2 separate regions of the Homo sapiens genome follow, and region 2 is linked to region 1. Evidence: fine-mapped expression QTL. Tissue or cell type: stomach. Region 1 holds a variant in brackets; the other region holds the start of a gene. All regions are shown on one strand. Distances are from middle to middle.

The links. PIP is the estimated chance that this variant, and not a neighbour inherited with it, causes the effect.
Region 2: it holds the start of E2F8, and the variant in region 1 is fine-mapped to the expression of E2F8 in stomach (GTEx, PIP 0.98).

Annotation. Positions count from the first base shown.
Region 1 is chr11:19,925,017-19,933,122 of GRCh38, forward strand. All of the region lies in intron 6 of NAV2 (neuron navigator 2), which reads left to right. Among named protein-coding and RNA genes, the nearest start is that of NAV2-AS3, 52 kb to the right of the region's middle. The variant T/C (reference allele first, on the strand shown) is at 3,117.
Region 2 is chr11:19,236,643-19,244,748 of GRCh38, forward strand. It overlaps E2F8 (E2F transcription factor 8), which reads right to left and starts at 4,303. Exons shown (of 13, transcript NM_024680.4): 1 at 3,906-4,303; 2 at 3,465-3,588; 3 at 1,212-1,490; 4 at 672-828. The coding sequence starts at 3,479. All of the region lies in intron 1 of CSRP3-AS1 (CSRP3 and E2F8 antisense RNA 1), which reads left to right. RefSeq lists a silencer at 4,373-5,072 and enhancers at 5,193-5,302, 5,508-6,079, 6,080-6,649.

The DNA of each region.
Region 1 (8,106 bases):
TGATTTGCTTTCTCTAATGATTAGTGATGTTTAATGTCTTTCCATATTTTTATTGGCCATTTGCATATCTTCTTTTGAGAATATTCAAGTTTTTTGCCCATTTTAAAATCCGGTTGTTTTTGTTGAGTTGGAAGAGTTCTTTATATATTCTGGATATCGGTCACTTATCAGATATGCGATTTATAAATATTCCATCCGGTTCTGTAGGTTGCCTTTTTACTCTACTGATAGTGTTCTTTGATGCACAGAAGTTTTTAATTTCCGTGAATCCAACTATTTTTTCTTTGGTTCCCTGTGCTTTTGGTGTCATATCCAAGAAATTATTGACAAATCCAAAGTCATGAGGTTTTGCCCTATGTTTTCCTTTAGGAGTTTTATAGTTTTAGCTTTTATGTATAGATCTTAGATCCATTTTGAGTTAATCTTTGCATATGATATAAGGTAAGAATCCAGGCCGGGTGTGGTGGCTTACGCCTGTAATCCCAGCACTTTGGGAGACTGAGGCGGGTAGATCACGAGGTCAGGGGTTCGAGACCAACCCGGCCAATGTGGTGAAACCCTGTCTCTACTAAAAATACAAAAATTAGCCGAGCGTGGTGGTGCATGCCTATAATCCCACTATTCAGGAGGCTGAGGCAAGAGAATTGCTTGAACCCGGGAGGCGGAGGTTGCAGTGAGCTGACATTGCGCCACTACACTCCAGCCTGGGCAACAGAGTAAGATTCTGTCTCAAAAAAAAAAAAAAAAAGAATCCAACTTTAGTTTTCTTTTCCATGAGAATATCCAGTTTTTCCACCACCATTTATTGAAAAGACCATTCTTTCCCCTATTGAATAGTTGTGGAACTCTTACCAAAAATTGTTTGACCATATGTGCAAAGGTTTATTTCTGAGCTATCTAGTCTAGTCCACTGGTCTATATGTCTGTCTTTATGATAGTACCACACTTTTAAAAAATTACTTTAACTTTGCAGTGGGTTTTGAAATCAGAAAGTGTGAGGCCTCCAACTTTGTTCTTTTTCAAGATTGTTTTGATTTTTGGGGGTCCCTTGAGATTCCAATGAATTTTAGGATAGATTTCTGTATGTCTGGAAAAAAAAGAAAGTCACTGGAATTTTGATAAGGATTGCATTAACCAAACAACTTTTAAAAAACATTTGATTATAAAAAAACCATTTTATTGTATAGATCCTCATCCTTATTCTAGCTTAGACTTTCTAGAAGCATATGGAATTATAGACACAATAAGCTCCTTGAAGCATGTGGATCCAAAGCCCAGCTCGCTCTCCCTCCATGCCCTCTCACTCTCCTGTCTCCATTCTTTGTTTGTCCTCGTGCCCCGCTTACCTTCTTTACTTCTCTCTGTACCTCCAGGGATCCTCTCCAAGATGGAGTTGGAGAGAAGACTGTGTTTAAGCTATATCCTTAATATTAGACATTGACACAGCAGTGCTGCTGAGGAGGCTCCTCCAGCCAGGCTCCAAGAACCTTGCAGAACCTCTAAGTGGATCGAGACAGGTTCACCTGCCCTTCTGTGGTCTGGTGGCTACCAGGTTGTCAAGAACTGACCAGGATGACTCTGAAAACAGTCTCTAGCTCATGTGGCTGGAGTCAATACACTTAAAGAAAAAAAAAAAAACAAAAAAAACTAGTTTCAATTATACTAACCAATTTGAATACTCAAGATTGACACCTTGACAAATTTTAGGAAATTGCAGACATTTTCCCACACCCAATTATCAGGCCTGTTCTCCAAAGACTTGGGAGAGGATTTAGGCCAGAAACCTCCCCAGGGCAGATTTAAAAATCACAGTAGCAGTGACAGGAGCTGGGATCAACAGGACACTCTCCCTGAGTGCCTGTTGGCATCAGGACCAGACCACCAACATCTCCCTAACTGAAAAGCTGGGGACAGGAGAGACCTGGGGCCAGTGTCCGCCCTCACTGAAGGAGAGAGGAAGAAATGCTTTATTTATCTGCTTTAAACAGTATTTTCATTTAGAAAGCATTTTGGTTCCTGTCAGGGAAGGTTAAGGCTGGTTGCCAGAAAAACCAAACCAAACTTTTTCCCTCCCAACCGGAGGATTAATACTCTCTCTAAACTCCGAGAAAAAAAATTCCTTTTCTTCAAAGCCATCCTGTCTGCAGTGTTTCAAATGAAACTTTTCCTTCTTACAGTGGTTTGTCAGTTGGTGGTGGGCCAACCTTGTAAGCTGGTCTTTTAGAACTGAGGTGTTCCAACTGCAAGGCACAGCCCACTAGTGGGGCATAAGACCTGTTTAAGGGCCAGGCGTAGTGGCTCACGCCTGTAATCCCAGCACTTTGGGAGGCCAAGGTGGGAAGATCACCTGAAGTCAGGAGTTCCAGACCAGCCTGGCCAACATGGTGAAACCCCATCTCTACTAAGAATACAAAAATTAGCCGGGCATGGTGGCAGGAACCTGTAATCCCAGCTACTCAGGAGGCTGAGGCAGCAGACTTGCCTGCATCTGGGAGGTGGAGGTTGCAGTGAGCACTCCAGCCTGGGCAACAAGAGTGAAACTCTGTCTCAAAATAAAATAATAAAATAAATAAAATAGCCAGGTGTGGTGGTATGTGCCTGTGGTTCCAGCAGTGAGCCGAGATTGCACCAGTGCACTCCAGCCTGGGCAACAGAGCAAAACTACATCTTTTAAAACAAAACAAAACAAAACAAAACAAAAAAAACCTGTTTAAGGGCTCTGCAATCAGCATTTTAGAACAGACTAGAGTAGCATATATCAGAGTTTATTATACATAATAAGAGTATATCTTGATATTTTTCAGTTTAACATGTGGAGAAGTGGCTGTTTATTGGATGGCAATATATCATTCTTACTGTGTTTTTACTATGTGGTCAAAAATTGTCACAGCTACTATTTTAAAATTACCTTTGGCTCAACAAGGCCTGATCATGTTTCCAGAACTGGCAAAATATCACATACTACACAAATATATAGAAATAAATAAAGCTCTAAAAACTAACCATTTCAGGTTCGTTTTGAACCTAGTCCTTATTTGAGCCTTCTGGTTTGATTTCTATTTGGTTGATTACGTTTTTCAAAAGAACACATTTAATATGAGTATATCTTGATTTAA[T/C]GTAACAGTGTTTCTCCCACTTCAGTCTTACATAAAATTTCTGCGTGATTTTTGCCAAATCTGTGAGCCACTTGTGTTTTTTATTTGTATTTTCCTTAAACTAGCTCAAATTTTAAATCTACATTTAATATCCATGAAACTGTTAATTTATATATGGCTAGTTATCATTTTCCAATATGTTTCTAATATATCTAATAAGCAATAAATATGACTTTTAAAATATAAAAATATTCATGTGCCATCCAACACAATCTCATCCACTTCAGTGGCCCACATATCATCATTTGGGGGATACAGATGTTCAAAACATTCTTTTATGCTTTTCTTTTTCCCCCTTAGGTTCCTTTGCTTTAACAAAGGTTCAGATATTTGAGGAAAATAACAAGAGTTGTTAGTTATCAGGGAAATAAGTGCTTTTCATTTTGAAGAACTCACGCCACCCACCTTCCCCCAAACTGGTTTTCATAGGATACTAGCATTTCTGAATTCACAAGCAGCTCATCTAATGTTGACCATACCTTGACCCAGCCGGTTTTCTCCATCAAGATTGGAAATCACCCAGCTGCAGGGGTCGTCTCAGAGACTTGCCCAGATTTGAATAGAAGCAAGGCTAAAAGGACACTAGAGAAATAGCTCATCCTCTTTCTAACAAATGGGGCAACTGAAGCCAAGAGAGGCAAAATGGCATATCTAGGATCACGCCATGAGTTGGGGACAAAGTTCAAGGTCCAGCCTACCCACCCACACCTCCCCTTTGTTTAACTTACTATCTGAGAAGCCTGTTGAGGAAAGCTTCATGCTAGGAGTCATAGGACCCCAGGATTAGAAATGGACAAAGAAGGCCAGGCGCGGTGGCTCACACCTGTAATCCCAGCACTTTGGGAGGCTGAAGTGGCTGGATCCCTTGAGCTCAGGAGTTTGAGACCAGCTTGGGCAACATGGCGAAACTCCATCTCTACAAAAAAACACACACACATACACAAAAATTAGCCAGGTGTTGGTGGTACTCGTCTGTAAGGCTGAAGCTGGAGAATCACTTCAGCCTGGGAAGTGGAGGTTGCAGTGAGCCAAGATCGAGCCGCTGCACTGCAGCCTGGGTGACAGAGTGAGATTCCATCTCAAAAAAAGAAAAAAAGAAACAGACAAAGGGAGGAACAGGCCCCAAACAGCCACTCAGCCAAGCTCTGAGATCACTGGTATGATATCCTAGGAATGATAGAAATGTATCAAGTTACTTTGTACAAGACCACTCATGACTTGACATACCCTTCATGTCATAGGGGACTTCTGGCTGTGACATGAGTGTAGAATGTTGATGACCTGGTCCTCAGATGCCCTAGTGCCCCCTATCTAGCACCACTCAAGACTCCTGCTCTAGAAACCAAATTCAGAATCATACCCAGGTGCTACCTTTTATAGTCGTAATGAGTAGCCTTGAAATGCCCCCATGACTTAATAACCAGGGGAGCCCAGACTAAATACTACATAGAAATTCTGATTCTTTGAGTTTTAATCTGAATTTTTTCCTGAGTTTAGGCTTAAGAGTTTTAATAAAACCCTAAAGACTCATCACAAATCCTACATCTCTGTTACCTTAAATATGACTTGCAAATGTCAAAATTACCCACCAGCAATTCATAAGTATCTTTATGCTCCAGCAGGCTTTAGAACACAAAGATGAGTCAGGGCGGGGAGTCTCTGTCCTGGAGGAAATCCCAGACCAGGGGAATAACTGACCTATAGCAGAAGCACCACGTGGTAACACAAGGATCACTTCCTCCAGGAAGTTTTCCCAAACTCTTCAGAGGGAATTAGTAGAGTCTACTAATTCTCCAGTTCTCATAGCACCTCATAGAGCCCTCTACCACTTTTTACACTGTTTTCATGGTTTGTTTTGAGGTCCATTGCACCCTGAGACAGTGAGTTCTAGGGGGCGGGAGCTTTATTCAACTCTGTGTTCCCAGAGCATTGTATAAAGTAGCTGCCCCTCCAAAATCATTCTATGGAAGAGGTATGGACGGAATCCTAGTGAAGCACAACAGTAGGGGAAAATGTCATGTGATATAAACCAGGCCTGAGAGTCTCAGATGGCCATTTCACCAAGACAAGCCAAGTATCTGTTTTCTTCTGGGTCAGTTATTAGCTACTTAGTTGGTTAATTTCTAGCTGCGATTGTTAGTGTTAAAAAAAATAGAAATTATAGTGGAGACATCCATTTCTGAGCAAGCCTCAGAGTAGTTCCAAGCGGTAAGATCACATTGATCCATGTACACGTGGGGACTATGCCTAAAACTTCTTTAGGAAAGAGGAACATACCTTTGAATGTGATCTTGTAGTTCCTATAAGGACAGTGTTGCAACCTGCCCCTAAGACCCCCGTCCTTTTCTTTAGCACTATTTTTTAACAAATAATATAGTTTATTTAATTAAATTTATTATCTGTTCCTTCTTGCTAAAATGTGAACTCCATGAAGGCAGAGATTTCTATCTGTTTTTTCATCGATGGATCCCAAGTACCTAAAACAGTATCTGACACATATTAGGAGCTCAAAGAATGAATAGATACATATGAATGAATATACTGAATGAATGAATGAAAACTTTACATCTGCCCCAGATCTAAGTTCAGGTAAAGGGAAAGGCAGTTTTCCTAGGAGGAGTGGTACTCAGGATTGGTGGGTTCACTATTATTTCAGCCAGAGAGCCATCCTCTGTGATGTAGGCTGCTGTATTTCAAATGGCAGGGTTGGTTTGTACTCCACCATGGATGTCATGAACATACATAAGCTAGTAGAATGCGCAGTTCCTAAAAGTGCTCTTGTTGTTTAAGTGGCTGTTTACATGCATTCTTCATCGAAGGAGGTAGCTATGACACCATGTCAGGAGACCTGAGTTCAAATCCCAGATATCTGCATTTCTGGCTGTGTAATTTAGGATTATTCTTTAGCCCTACCTAAGTCTCAGTTTCCTCACTCTTAAAATAGGGGCAGGAACTCCTTTTCACAATGTGCTGAGCACTGAGCCTCCTGACACCAAGCAGGCCGCTGATGGGCAGCGTCAAGCCTGTAGCAACCCTCTAACAGGCCAGCAGTGTGGGTGGGTTCTCGGAGCCTGATTCCAAGCCAGTCTCCCCAGGAAAACATCCAACAACACCCCTTGAGTTTTGTTAGGGAGGATTGTGAGGCACCCTCCCTCCAAACCCAAATCCCCAGTAAGTCAGGAAGATATATGTGTTTTAAAACATTGGGAGGTCTGCTTTGGATCACCCTGGAGCTGTGGCTTCCCCGAGCAGCTGAGAGTGAAAGGAGGCAGTTCCTTTACTGTGAGCTCTCACGGCACGGTGCTCACGCCCCACACAGGGGCTGCCTTCACTCGGCTTCAGCAGCCGTTGACTTTTAAATCATAAAAAGCCGCTCTATATACAGTTTACTCTGTTGCTAGAAGGCAGTGGAACATAGGTATTTAAAAAAAAAAAAAAGCAGAAGAAGCAGCCGTTAATCCCGCCAGGCTTCTGGGCACTGGAGTAGTTGTGGATGACAAAAGTTAATTAGAAACATGAGCAGTTTAACCGAAAACACTTGTGACAATTGGAAGGGCAGCCTCTCCGGTTGGAGGATTTTTCCTAGGGAATCATTGCAGGAGAAAGTGGCTGCTGCTAGGTAAGTCATGTCATTGTGAGTTTGCAGATGCAGAGGTGCTTTTTGGGGGGCTGAAGGGGTGTATCCTGTCTGCCGTGCACACTGGGCATGGGGTGTGGGTGGGTGCGGGCACGGGGCCCAGTGGAGACGTGCTTTGCCTGGCACTTTCTCTCCAACAGCTGTCCTTCCTTGAGAGATAGGCTGCATCATCCGGGGCACTGACTGAAGCAGGGTGCTGCAGTTTCCATTTCTGTCACATTGGCCACCTTGGTGACTAGCTGTTAGTTTGGAGCCTGCCCTCACTAGAACAATTCTGGCTCTAGTTTGGAAGTATTTTGAGGCTTTTCTGAGAAAAGAGTCTGGCCAGGGAAATACTCACTGAGCGCCAAGGGGAAGCCTTGACTTTCAGATAACCTGTGTGTTTTCTGGCCCACAGTGAACCCATTGCATAGATTACACTCTTAAGCAAAAAAAAAAAAAAAAAAAAAAAAGAAAGAAAAGGAAAAAAAAAAAGCTGTTTTTAAGTCCAACCTGAACCATGTTTGCAACGTGTTTTGGTTTTTTGGTTTGTTTGGTTTTTTTCTGAGACAGAGTCTCACTCTTTTTCCCAGGCTGGAGTACAATGGCATGATCTCAGCTCACTGCAACCTCTACTTCTCCTGCCTCAGCCTCCCAAGTAGCTGGGATTACAGGCATGTGCCACCACACCCAGCTAATTTTTGTATTTTTAGTAGAGACTGGGTTTCACCATGTTGGCCAGGCTGGTCTTGAATTCCTGACCTCAGGTGATCTGCCCGCCTCGGCCTCCCAAAGTACTGGGATTACAGGTGTGAGCCACTGCACCCAGCCATTTGCAACTTTTAAAAAGTGCCAGCATAGGAAAAACTTACATGCTTTAATAGGCTTTAACAACTTTTGTGTGTAATTATTCTTTTTTAAAGATTCTACATGGTTTCTCCTTCTTTTCTATTTTTGTAATTGTTGTATTTTAATGTCTCTGATACATTGTTTGCTTAAAGTTGGATAATTCTTGATTCTTTCCCATAATTGGGAAACAGGCTATGGGATGAATAATTGAAAACGGTAGGTATTTCCTACTCTCTCCTGCACTGGCTGTATTAACGGTGCAGGTGTCTGTTAAGATTTGTTAAGACCTGCATGCTTTCACGTGGCACATGCCACCAAAATGTGATGGGGTTGGGGGGATGTGAACTGTGCAGTATGGAAAGCAGGAGGAAGTCAAGCCAGAAATTAAAACCTAACCACAGATAATCCACAAAGTGGGCAATGGAGCTATACGGCATTTGGGTTGGGAGTGATTGGTTGTGTGGCCATGGCTGACCCTCCCTGGTC
Region 2 (8,106 bases), 690 kb before region 1:
TATTAGAAGGGCAACTTTTCTTCACGGGGTGATTGCTTTGTATTAAAATGTATTATCTTGCACAGCACATCACTTCACAGGTTTAAATTAAGATACCCACATGACTCCAAAGGTACCCCAAATTCACCACGGGCCCCTTTTTAGCTCCAAATAGATTCAGGTCTTTGAACAGAGTAAAAAGGGGCAGGAGGAATAACTTGTGCCCAACACAAAACATTCAGAAAACTAGTCCTCAGAATAGTGCTGAAGGTCCAGGAGTGCACAGGTCCTGTTCCCACTCACAGAAGCTGATCCTCAGCGTCAACTAGGAAGATAACCATTTATCAGCCTGATTCTTCAAGAACAGCAAGGGAGAGCAATGAAGCAAAAGTTCACAGTTGTAACTTTGTGAAACAAGTCATGAGACAATATTGCCTTTCTTTAAAGCTTCAGAGACAACTGTAGTCAGAAGCAACCTCCATTGTGACTTTTCTGCCTCCAAGATTTGCTGAAATTTGCAACTACTTACCTTCATTCTTATATTAGAAGAGGGCTTTAGAGATAGAAAATTTCCATGCCGGCTTATTTGTGTCATTTACAAACACTGGCTAGATGAGCGGGGGTCTGAAGGAGTTAAGTCCATAAAGCCACTTTAATTATTAATTCTTTCAGTGAGTTCTTTGCATACTTACTAAGTTCCTCTGCCACTTCGTCAAGGCAGATGTCATTATTCACAGCAGGGTTGGGATAATTAGGATATCGTGCTAAGAACTTATGACACAATAATCCTAAACTTTTCTCTTTTCGACTTGGTTGGGATTTCTCAAATTCATCTCCAGATAAGTGTTCCTACAAAGGAAAAGGTAAACAATGTCTTATTCTAAAATAAAGTCTGACAGATTTATTAGGGGCATCTGTGCTCGATGACTGACACCAACTTACACACGCTTAGCTTCAACAGCTGCAAAGTCTGGATGGGAGAAAAGGTTAGGGGGGCCAGTACAAAATGCTTGGCAAACCTGAAAGGAAAGCCTGAAACGAAAATAACGCAAAGGTTCAGAATTCCCAGAGCTATATTTCTTGGGGTCCAAACCTTTCTGGTGCTCCGAAGGAAGTTAATAACAGCCTTCGGGTGGTGATGCTTTAAATTGCTGGCACTTCTCTAATAGCTACAACCTCCCCCCTCCCCCCAACAAATTCCCCAGCCTCCAACCAGTCCTCTGAAAACCTACGTGTATACAGTCTTTGGCCTCAGGTAATCCACTTCTGTTGTCAAACAAACCCCTTTTCTGATCTCTGTTGCGGATCTCAGGGCTCACAGCACTGATGAGCATTTTCAGGTTGGCTGTCGGTGTCCACGGCTCTCCCTGAGAGCCTTCCTTGGGCTTGGTAGGTGTGGTTAAAGGGCCAAAGTCAGGCTGGATCTCTGCCAACACGATATTTGCTGTGGTGGATTCTTTCAGAGGTGTTTTCATTAGTCCCCTTTTATGTGGCTCACAAAAGAGATTTTCCTGGTTTAAAAAATGTAAATAATTAAATCCATGGTAAAACAGGATTTATCAGACAGCTTGGATTCTAGAAATTGCATAACGAATAGAATCATGCCAAGGAAAAAATGTCTAATGAGATTGTAGAGTTGAGGAAATTAATAACTGTATTCTAATGGTCATGTGATGTGTATTGTCAATTCTAATAATTACATTTCCCATTTTTAATTTTGCAATAAGCCATAAATGTTTTCACCTTATGTTTCAACCACTGAAAAAACAACTTTAGTTAGGACTTATAATTTTAATTGTATTTTGAAATAGTTTTAGATTTAGAGAAGAGAAGCAAAGACAGTATAGAGTTCCCAAATGCCCTTCACTCAGCTTCCCCTAATTGGACTGACAATGTTAAATGATCAAACTTCTAGAAATGACTTTTGTTTACTCATGGCACTGTAATAAGTAAAGGCCTACAGGGCAGAAATTCTTATCCACCTAGCATAATGGCTGCATGCAGTGGGTGCTAAATAAAATACCACTGAAGAGTCAGAGAGACAAGGAGACAAGAGTGAGGGATAGCATATGGTCAGATTTATCAGGGAAATCTAGAGTGTCCAACAGCAGGATTTCTGACCAGAAAAGTCTGCTCTTTGAACATCCACTCCCTCATTTTACAGATAGAGAAAATGGGGCCCAGAGAAGTAAAATGATTAGGTTGGTGCAAAAGTAATTGTGGCTTTTGCTACTGAAAGTAATGGCAAAAACAGCAATTATGTTTGCATCAACCTAACAGCTACCTAAGACCACAAAGCTAGATCCTGGCAGAAGCAGGATAGCCACTGAGACAAAAGGGTAAATTAACAGCAGTTCATAAATAAGGCTAATGGAGACTATGTTCCTTCCAGTTTTGGACACCAGGGACTTCACACACTACTCCCATCTTTATCTATTTTAAAGAAAATGCTTGGAACAGCAATAAGTAAAATAATAGGCAGACCAAATAACTTTAAGAACATGGACAAATGGGACATGTTGTGACATCTTGGGTTTATCAAGTGCATTTCCGTTTGTATGTTCATGGAATCCTGCATTCTTAGCTCGCAGAAGAGAAGATGCAGGCTGAGAGAGGTCACGTAGGAGTGGAACACAGATATTTTCACTCCAAGTATGGTGCTCTTCTTACATGGAAGTCAGTATGGTGGACCCAACAGGAGCTCCTTGCCAGTGTGTGCATCTGAGATGTACTGATCTGACAATAGGCTTTTTCTTTGCCTCAGATTATCAGAAGCAATAGTAATTCTCTTATTTGACTAACATCTAAAACTATTAGGAAATATGCATGTAAGTTCACTTTTTTAAACCTATTAGTAGTTGGACACCCCCCACAGACAATTCTTTTGTAATTTTACAAAATGTTTGCCCCCTAAACAGAGCATTTTGCAGACCCCATAAATAAGCTGCCAATTTGGTAAAAAATTATCTTAAAAAGAAATTCAGTCTCCAAACATGTCAAATGCCCTTTCTGAATTCCAAGTTGTTCAAGAATCCTCAGAAATGTTGTAATGAAACTAACGAATTTTTGAAGAGGGGTAGGTTTGCCCCTTTACACTCTTTCTAGTTTTTAATGATTTGGTAGCTGTCTCAGACATAAAGAGAGAAAAGGTATTTTTAAGAATAATAAAATTTGTTAGTTTCATTACAACATTTCTGAGGATTCTTGAACAACTGGAATTCAGAAAGGGCATTTGACATGATTGGAGACTGAATTTCTTTTTAAGATAATTTTCATTTTTTAAACTATATTAATTAAATTAGTATATATTTTAAACTATATATTTTTGAAACTATAAGATAAGGTTCATTTTTTCCAGGTCTTTACAGAGGCTAACCAAGGTTGTGGCATTAAGAAAACACATTGGATAGGGAAAAATTATGGAGTTAAATCAGGATGATACTGAATTTAAAATTGCAATGATGAATACTGAAGTTATAAAGTACCTTTTCGTTCTCCATTCTGTAAATTCCTCATACATTTAGAGTTTAAAAATGAAAAATCTGGAGTTCCTCCCCAAATCCCGATGGTTCAAGTAGTCCAATCAATTGTACTAAAAGTTTTAATATCCTTAAAGAAAAAAGGAAATAGAAAAAGTTAGAGAAAAACAAGAACCAAAAGATCTGTTGAAAATTCCTTCACGGACAAGAGGCTACGGAAACAAAGCCTAACGAAAAATGACAAACTAGATTTACATTTTATTCTCGACCAGAGATCGCCCCACTGAGCGGAGAACGCCAACAAATGCCAGTAAATTCCTTCAGCAAACGGATCGGCGGTCCTAAGACTTCAAGCAACCCACGGAATTTCTAGTGACAGCCCTCTCCCATCTGTAGAAAAGGCGAGCCATTCTCCGGACCCCAGCGAATACTTTAGGAAGCACCCACCTGTTCGCAGATCAGGGCTCCGGACTAAGCGCACGAGCCCAGGTCCCAGCTGAGCGCACGCGACCCCAAGTAACTGGGTACAAGTCTGCATCTAGATGCCTGGATTTCTCCCCTTACACACACGTGCACAGGCTCAGCAGTAAAGTCGTGGGAGGTCGCTTGACAGGAAAGTTCCAAATTCAGTCCCAAAGCTCCAAGTATGCAGTTGGGCATTTAAAGAGTCTTATAATTAAGACTTTTTTTTTAAATTTAAAAAAGGGCTTCCTTAAAGATACAAAGCACTATTTACTCCCTGTTCGGGTGGCCAGTTCACACCACGGCGTTAGACTCCACCTTGGAAGGCTGTATTTGCCCAATAAGGCAAGCAGGTACTGTCCCCCGGCCGCCACTCGCTCAGTGCACTTCCCCCAACTTTCGGCCAAAGGCCCCTCCCCCAGGCCCTGTCCGCCCGCCGCAGTCCCGACAGTTCCCGGACAGCATCATCGTGGTTTCCAGGACAACAATTCCCGACCAATCAGAGGGCCGGAAGCGGGCCTGCGATTGGCCGACGGCGCCAGGGGCGGGGCCGGACCTTCCGCCTTCGATTTAAAAATTTGGCGCGGAAAGTCGGACCGTGGCCGGCGCCTCCCCTTAGCTGCGCGGGGCCTGAGCGCGGGCAAACCCGCGCCCGGAACCACGGCAACCCCGCCCCTCCCCCTCGTTCGCCCCCGCCCCTCTGCGCGGGAGCTCAGCTCCTCCCTCACGGCCCCCGGCGAAGCGGGAGGCGGGAAACGGCCGCCGCCGCCGCCGCCGCCACCCTCCCGAGCCCTCTCCCGGTGCCGTGTCGCCCGGGCGCCGCGCCCCTCTGCGTCCCGCTGACCTGTCAGTCCACCTCACGGCGGGAGCCGGCGGGGGCTGAGCCGGGACTCGTCAGCACCGCTGCCCCTCTCAGGCCCGGGAGCCCGCGTACCTGGCAGTCAGTCTTTCCGCAGCGCCGAGGTGGGTGCCGGAGAGAGACGCCGGGACCGGGACTGGCGGGCCGGCTGGCGGGCAGAGGGAGCGTGACCGTCCAGGAGCAGCCAAGCCCCCGATTTGAAATTAACCCGCTCCCGGCGCGAGCCGATACCGCGGGCGGGGAGGGCCGCTCCCCTCCCCCACGCCCGCTCGCCCCGGCCCCGGCCCCCGAGCGCCAATCCGAGCCTCCCGACCGTAGCCGCCGGCGAATCGGTGCAGGCACCGCCCTCCACTCCCGCCTCTACGGCAGAGTTGGGGGAAAAGTTCAGCAACTTTTTTTTCCTTTTTTTTTTTTTTTGCATACACCCCCTCCCCTTGCTCAAAGTTGGGGAATAAAATTTGGCCCGTCCGGGGCTCGCGGGCTGGGCCGCAGGCGCCCTGCGATTCCCCGCTTGGGGCTATCTCACCCCTGCCCAGCCCCAGGCCGGCTCACCTGCCCTCGGACTCCAGCCGGACCTCTCCCCCTTGCACCCCTGGCATGCATGATTGTGCTGCCCACCGTCTGCCCCGTGCCTCGCAGAAACTGGCGCGAGGAGGGAGAAGCTTGGCTACTGGTGCCTAAGCTCCGTGGGCTCTGGGCCTTGGCCCAGCGGTGAGAACTCAGGTGTAGGAGGAAGAGGAGGAAGGCGGAAAACCCTCCAACCCTGTCCTCGCCGTCTTTCCTCAGGGTCTCCCACCCACTCCTCCCTTTCTCTTCCCTGTTGTCTTTCCCTCTTTTTCCGGTCTCCGAGCCTCAGGCAGCTTTAGCCTGGTTCCCTGTAGAGCCCTAGCAGGGTCGGGGAGACACTTCGATCCTTCGTCCTCACTTTGCAGAACGGGACACCGAGGCCCGGGGCGGCGGCGCTGCCTCGGCTGCACCTGGATCATTTGCGCCCGCGTTGGCTCCCTTTGCTCTCCTCTGCCTTAGACTTTTCTGCGGACTGGTGCTGAGTGTTGCCCAACCGCGCCGAGATCTGGGCGCCGGTCTCTCGATCTGGACTCGGTTTGGCTCGTCCTCCTCTGTAATCGCGTGTCTTTAGGCTCCAGCAGGGCCCGGGGCCACACTTCCCCACTCCCACCGCTAACTTGGGGATCAGTGACTCTCCCATTGCTGACTAGCAGGGCGAGGCATTTTTATTTTCTGCGAAACGCGATGAGGGCGGGGATGCTATGATATTGAGGCTGGGGTCGCAGCGCAGCAGCTGCCGGCCATAGGGCCAGGGGTCTCCGTGGCGAGCGAAGGCTCATCTCCCCGCGGAACGCGACCGCAGGCTTGCGGTGTGGCCGCCCTGGAATGTTGGCGCCGTCGTGTCCCTGTCCCCCTTTCGTCGCCAGCTGAGGTGCAGGTCTTGCTCAAGAAGGCGCTTCGACCTGAAAGCAGGCCTTTCAGGTACTGTGCAGAGGGGCCACTGCCTGTGGCTCGCAGATTTGAAATAAAGCAGAGGTCACTATATAGGGTTCCACCGTTGCTAGCACTGAGCGGCTGGTTCTTACTAAGCCCAGGTACCCCTTTTTTGGAGCAAGACTGGGTTCTAAATGTATCAACAAAAAGTGGGGAGTTGGTGCTTCTGCTTTAGCCACTAGCTGTTGGCCAGATTGTCATCTCCCCCAACCCCCTGAATGGTCAGCGCTCCCAAGAGTGCATAGATTCAGCTATGCCTAATGTACCCGAAGTTATTACAGCCCCGGAGTCCTGTGGGCCATAAATCCCTTTTAAAGTTCTTTAGAAGCAGTCTGCCTCATGCACCTGTGTTCAGAGATAGTGACTAATTCGTTCAAATCTGTGATCTACAGGGCCATTCATGCTGCAGATGTCTGAGTGACAGTTACCTGTAAGGCACATCATGCAGGGAGCAGCCACCTCTGGTGACACTTGACAGATGGCCTCTCATTTCATACTCAGCACAGGTGTGAAAGCATGGGTTATGACTCTGAGAGGGAAGCAGCATTTTAAAGTGACAAACCCAAGGTCTAACTGTAAGGGACAGGACTGGGATTTGAAGCCAAGGGTGTTTAACGTCTCAGGGCTTTCCACTGAAAGCTGTGTTCACCACTGTGCGGCGTGCTCATCCTTACTTGCTTCATAGGATAGTTGTGTCCCATTTTATAGAGAAGAAAACTGAGGCACAAAAGGGTTAAACTGATGGCCAAGTTAGCTACAGAGCCAGAATTAGAATCCAGGTCTACCTGCTCCAAGTTCATACATCCCATTCCACTGCCTCTGAAAGTTCCTGTGAGAGCAATGTTAGTGCCAACTCAGGCTAGCCCTTAACCATTTCAACCCCTCCCTAAACACACAAAAAAACAGGAAGGTGAGAGTGTAATTCTTGCTTACTGATAGTTGTCATGTCTTACTGAAGGAAGTGAAATTATAGTCAAACTCATTGAATATGTTGAAAAGTGGTTTTATTAAGAGTGAAGTGATACAGTTTTGAAGTCTTAACAACACTTTCATGTAATGAAAGGTAATAAAGAAAGAAAGGTTCTACTCATCACTGTGTAGAGTATCAATTTGAAATGCAGCATGAGTGTAAAGGAGGGAAAAGACTACTGAAAACTTTTATGTTTACTGCATAACCAAGAAGGAAGGATCAGGGCATAAGCTTGAAACTTTTTTTTTTTTTTAATTTTCCCATCAAATATGTTTTCCACTTATTAGTTACATAATCCAAGGGAATATTTGTGTATTTGTTTCTGGTCTTTTGTTCATCATGTTGTGTAATCTGTGTCTCACTGAAGTTAGACCAGTTTTTCTACTCTGTGCTGTCGCCCTTCTGGATTGCACAACTTGGAGGGCTGATACGTTGTGTAACACGTTCAGCATTAAATAAAGTATTATGAAAAAAGATATCAAAGGTAAGGAGGAAAGATAGGCATCACCGGGGCGCCTACATTCAAAGGTAACATTTGGGATTTCTGAAGCGTGTCCCTTTTCATCATCACCAAAAAGACAGGCAAGACCTTCCCCTGCTGAGCAGGGAAGGATGAAGGGCTAAGGAAGGAGTTCTAGCTAATGGGTTTCTTGACCTTTTCTGTCTGTCTTGCTGCCCCACCTCCTAGGTGCTTATATCACCAACTCTGCTTCCTGACCTAGTGGGGCAATTTGGGTTTGTGCTTTATCTGCAGTACGTGTTGGCATAGATACCACGAAACAGCTCTCTGGAGCTTAAAACTGCACAAATCCCTATGTGCTGGGTTGGATTGTGGCTGCTCACAGCTAGATCTCAGC